Regions from separate parts of the Homo sapiens genome. Here region 2 is linked to region 1. A link means that fine-mapping ties the variant in region 1 to the expression of a gene that starts in the linked region. Tissue or cell type: spinal cord. Region 1 holds a variant in brackets; the other region holds the start of a gene. All regions are shown on one strand. Distances are between the middles of the regions.

What was found.
Region 2: LINC00706 starts here. The variant in region 1 is fine-mapped to the expression of LINC00706 in spinal cord (GTEx, PIP above 0.99).

What each region holds. Positions count from the first base shown.
Region 1 is chr10:6,754,108-6,757,023 of GRCh38, forward strand. No RefSeq gene overlaps it. Among named protein-coding and RNA genes, the nearest start is that of LINP1, 18 kb to the left of the region's middle. The variant G/T (reference allele first, on the strand shown) is at 1,137.
Region 2 is chr10:6,777,591-6,780,506 of GRCh38, forward strand. It overlaps LINC00706 (long intergenic non-protein coding RNA 706), which reads right to left and starts at 1,590. Exons shown (of 2, transcript NR_108074.1): 1 at 1,521-1,590. LINC00707 (long intergenic non-protein coding RNA 707) reads left to right here and starts at 2,008. Exons shown (of 5, transcript NR_038291.1): 1 at 2,008-2,297.

The sequences.
Region 1 (2,916 bases):
TGTAAGTTATATAAATGAGTTCCATTTTTCTAGTAGTAAAGATCACATGCTTTTTTATTTTTTTTGTCTTTTGGACACCTGTATTGGTTAGAGTTCTCCAGGAAAATAGAACTGATAGGATGTATATATGTGCATGTATGTGTGTGTGCATGTATGTGTATACATGTGCACACATGTTTTTGTGTGTGCTTGTATGTGTGCATGATGTGTATATGTGCGTGCATGTTCGTGTGTGTGCATGTGTGTGTGTGTGCACGTGTGTGTGTGCGTGCATGTAAGTAAATGTATTTATAAGGAATTGGCTCACATGATTATGGAGGCCAAGTTCAAGATCAGCAGTCGGCACGGTGGAGACCCAGGAGAGCCGATGTGTGGTTTCAATCTGAAGGCTGTCAGGCTTGAGACCCAAGAAGACCTGCTGTTTCTGTTTGAGTCCCAAAGCAGGAAAAATCTGTTGCCCCGGTTCAAGGGCAGAGACAGAGAATTCTTTCCTATTCAGCCTGTTGCTCTAGTCAGGCCTTCATCTGATTGGATGAGGAACACCCAGACTGGGAGGGCAATCACCTTACTCAGTCTACTGATTCAATGTTAATTTCATTGAAAATGCCCTTATGGACACACTCATATAATGTTTGACCAAATATGTGGGCACCCATGGCCCAGACAAGTTGATTTGTACGACAGACTATCACAGCGCCCATGCTCAAGTCAATGAGCCACACAGAGGCTGAGCTCTTTTTCCCATCTCCTTCTAGGACAAGAATTGTTGAAGCCGGGGTCAGGATGGGGGATGCTGAAGTGCTCATACACTCTAAACCAGAGGCTTCCTAGAGCCTAAGGGGTAGCTGAGAAGACAGCCAGGTAACTAGGACTGCCAGTGCTGACAGTGGGGGAGGAGGTCCCAGGCAATGCACTCTGAAGTCTTTCAGCCCATCTGCATTTTTGGAGAGGTCCCTAAATTTTTTTTTTACTGGGTCCAAACCCACCAACTTACCCCTGAATCCTGGTTCTCGCATTTCCATTCTTAGTCTCAGTCCTTGCACCCAGCACCTCTGTCTTCAGTCCTATAAACAGTGTCTTCTGCTCTCAGTTGGGGCAGGTGGATGGATTAACTCACTCACTCCTGGGCTGACAAA[G/T]GCTCTTTGAAAATCTCCCTTCCTCTCAGAAGCATTGCAGCTGAAACACTGATTCTTAAATGCCCAAAGCCTTCAAGTTTCAAAGGAGAAAAGTGTAATATTGAAAGATATTTGCTAAATTTAGATTTGAAAGAAGGGGGCTGGGCTTGGGCTACATTGTTTGACATTTGATCTGTGTCACTACAGTCTTTGACAGTGGTTAATTCAAATAAGAGAAGGTGTGTGTGTGTGTGTGTGTGTAAACACACTGGTGCGAACTCAAGTTTTCACTGATTCTTACGGTTTACTCAAGTCACTTGTCTTCCTATTTACATATTCAACTGTCTGTCTCATTTATCTTATTTATTAAAACAAAATTCACTGTGGCATTAAGGCCCACCTCTGGAAATATAGATCTCATTAAGAAATTCTCCCTCTTGTCAATTCTAACTTTCTGTATTGTACCAAAATACAAACCACTCTGATAGGTAGAAAGCTGCTATTAATCTTGCCAAGTTTGTCTTACATAATTGATAATAAAACCGAACATGGCTAAGTTTTAAAAATCATCTTCCTTTATTATTATTATTACTATTAATTTTAAAACCACGCCTAAAGAACAGCCAGCCCTCGGAAGTGAAAAAAGTTAATGAAATTTCTCATTTCAAAGATGCACCTGGGGCTTAGCATCTTGGAACTGCACTGAAAAGTGGGGAGAAATCAGAGCGATGCATGTTCCCCTAATGCCTGCAATAACATGAAATCTGCCTGATGCCTATGCCTCGTGGAGATAAAGACCCATTTTTTTTTATATTATTAGACACAATTATGAGAAGCCAGAGAAAGTGAAAAAAAAATACACATTTCTGTATTCAAATGGAAATAAGTGCTTCATTAGTAATAAAGGCTCTAGGTTATGTTACCATGTAACCTTTTGTTCAAACATGATGTTTGAAATTTGCATAAGTAGTCAGCTGTGTATATCTCAGGGCTATTGAAATGCTATGACTCACCAATCTAAGCAGCCTCATAAACAGTGTTTTTCTCCTTTTCTGGTGCCCTTGTTTTCACAGAAACACAGCTGCACGGCACTGACAGAGAACTCGCAGAGTAAAAAGGAACCCACAATAAACGAGCTGCTTTGCGCCATGTTCACAATTTCCTTGCAGGGTGGGAGCAGAGATGGTCCGAGTAAACTGACCCATTTGGAAGCCCACTTGGAAACTGGGTTCCTTTTTTTAAAAAAATAAATTTATTTCCATAGGTTTTTGGGGAACAGGTGGTATTTGGTTACATGAGTAAGTTCTTCAGTTGTAATTTGTGAGATTTTGTGCACCCATCACCCAAGCAGTATACACTGAACTCAGTGTGTAGTTTTTTATCCCTCACTCCCCTCCCACGCCTTCTCTCAGGTCCCCGAAGTTCCTTATATCATTCTTATGCCTTTGCATCCTCATAGCTTAGCTCCCACTTATGAGTGAGAACACATGATGTTTGGTTTTCCATTCCTGAGTTACTTCACTTAAAATAATAGTCTCCAGTTCCATCCAGGTTGCTGTGAATTCCATTAATTTGTTCTTTTTTATGGGCTCATTCTTAAATGAAATCTTGGCAACCATAGAACTTCTTGTTTTAAAGGAGGAGAAGGAGGCATGGGGAAAGGTTCAGAAGACTGCCTGGACTTCAATGGAACTTACATATAATTTTCTGCATTACGTATAAATCCATCAGAAACATATGGAATGCATTTTCATTAAAGTTCACATGTGGAATTATTAATAGAAATTCAGTGGGAAAGAAC
Region 2 (2,916 bases), 23 kb after region 1:
GGCAAAACTGGACTAAGAGCTGTGGCATTTTTCTCTGAATCCCATGTTCTTTTCAGAGGGATTACATTACTTCTACAAAATAACACTGTCTTAGTCAATTTAGTGTTGCTATAACAGAGTATCTGAGACTGGGTCGTTTAGAAAGAAATGAGGTCTATTGAGCTCATGGTTCTGCAGGTGGGAAATTTCAAGGGCATGGCGCTGGCTTCTGGCCAGGGCTTTCCTGCTGTGTCATAACATAACAGAAGGTCAAAACTGGGGTAGGCATGTGTGAAAAGGAAGGGACCAAGGAGGGTGACATGTTTTATACCAACCTACTCTTGAGGGAACTAATCCATCTCTGCAAGAACTAATCCAGTCTTGCAAGAGTAAGAACTCACTCACTATCCTGAGAACGGCACCAATTTATCGTGAGGAATCCACCCCTATGACCCAAACACCTCCCACTGGGCCCCACTTCCCAACACTGTCTCTTGCAATGAAACTTCCACATGGGTTTTGGTGAGGACAAGGCACATCTAAGTTGTAGAAAATACCCATAAAAAGCTTGAGAAAGCACATGGATGGATATACATGACTTTGTTTCACCATCTTTGCCCTTTTCTATTGATACAACGATGCTCTTGAGTCTAGAAAAAAGTGCTTCAGGCTGAACGGGTTTCAGATGGCTGTCCACTGGATTTCTGGTTTTACCTTTTATCTCTAATGGGCTCACCCCGCACCTACCTTAAGGCCAGGTTCATCACTGCAAAACACAAATCCAATTCCAAAACACTGGGAAGCAATCAGATTGGATTGTTCTTTTCTTAGGAAAAGAAAGCAAAAACTTACCCCCCCATAAGGCACCACTGCCTAAAACCATCTGTAAGCATTTCTGTCATTTCCTTGGAGGCTTGAGACTCACCTGTGAGAGGGAAAGCATCAACCTCTCCCACATACCCTTAGTTGCCCTAAACGATTCACCCCTGTGTTCCACCTTTAGTAAAAGAAAAGCACGGTGATTACCAGAATTCAGTGCAGAGCCATCCCTTAACAAGCAATGGTTAAGAAACAAGGGAGGGAAGGAAGAAAGGAAGAAAGGAAGGAAGGAAGGAAGGAAGGTAGGTGGGGGGGGGGAGGGAGAGAGAGAAGGAAGAAAGGAAGGAGGGAAGGGAGGGAGGGAAGGAAGGAAAGAAGGAAATGGAAGGAAGGAAGGAGAGAGGGAGGAAGGAAGGAAGAAAGGAAGGAAGGAAGGAGGGAGGGAGTGATGAAGGAAGGAAGGAAGAAAGAAAGAGGGTGGGAGGGAGGGAGAGAATGAAGAAGGAAGGAAGGAAGGCAGGGAAGGAGGGAGGGAAAGAAGGAAATGGAAGGAAGAAGAGAGGGAGGAAGGAAGAAAAAAATGGAAGAAAGGAAGGAGAGAGGGAGGGAGGAAGGAAGGAAGGAAGAGAGGGAGGGAAGGAGGGAGGGAGGGAGGGAGGGAGGGATCAGAAATCATAGCCAGTGAAACCCAGAAAACCGTTAGGCAGGAATTAGGACAATACCTTACTCAGGTTTGCATTCCCAGCATTTAGCACCATATGCATCATGCATCAAAAATGTTGTTGGGTGAATGCTGAGCAACAGCCACACACTGAATAAACCAGGCAGGTTGACGTCACAGGGGAGGGCACAGTGTTCCTGGACTCTGAGTGGGTGGCTATTTTTCATGCCAAGTCATGACAGTAGCATTCAGTGTGGTGGGTAAACACAGTCTTATGAATCTCACTTTTAAAAAACTGGAAGTGCTATAGATAAAAGCTTTCATAATTTTGAGATAATAATGGTAAAAATTATCATTTTTGCTTACTATTTGTGATGGTTAATATTGAGTGTCAACTTGATTGGATTGAAGGATGCAATGTATTGCCCCGGGGTGTCTGTGAGGGTGTTGCCAAAGGAGATTAACACTTGAGTCACTGGACTGGGAGAGGCAGACCCACCCTCAATCTGGGTGGGCACCCAGCTGCCAGCTCAGCTGCCAGTGTGGCTAAAATAAAGCAGGCAGAGGAACGTGGAAGGACTAGACTGCCTGAGTCTTCTGACCTTCATCTTTCCCCTGTGTTGGATGCCTCCTGCCCTCAAACATCAGACTCCAGGTTCTTCAGCTTTTGGACTCTTGGACCTACCCCCCGAGTGGTTTGCCAGGGGCTCTCAGGCCTTCGGCTACAGACTGAGGGCTGCATTATCAGCTTTCCTACTTTTGAGGTTTTGGGACTTTACTGGCTTTCTTGCTCCTCAACTTGCAGATGGCCTGTTGTGGGACCTCACCTTGTGATCATGTGAGTCAATACTCCTTAATAAACTCCCTTTCATATATGCATCTATCCTATTAGTCCTGTCCTTCTAGAGAATGCTAATACAATATTTTTAATTTTTATATCCCACAATAAAACTCAGAAGTAGTTAAGTCAGGCTTAAATGCAAGAGAACGGTTTATATTAATTATTGGCCATAACCAACAAAAAATTTCAGAAAAGTCAGTATCATCATGCTGCCTTTATCCAGCACTGACTTTGTTAAGCCTTCCAGAATCTGTCATGTATGAGATTCAACCTGAAATACATACACGCAACAGGTGCATCTTAGGGCTTTGAGGCCAACTGCAACTCATAGTTGCCAAGAACCACCAGCCCTGAGAAACACCTGAAGAAGAAGATTGGTTTAGTGTTTGGGTCCTTCTATGACCTTGAAGAAAGCACTGGGGAAGACATGATTGTGCCTTCACTGAGTAGCCCCACCAGCCATCACCACTTCATTTCTTACCCACCTTTGTAGTATACTCATTCCTAATTAAGAAGGCTGAGGCAGAGCCAAGGGTTAAGTTAACGCAAGGCTGGTACCTTTCCTAGGCTTGCCAGTCATTTGCACACAGAGAAGACCATAGGAAACTGAAAGAAG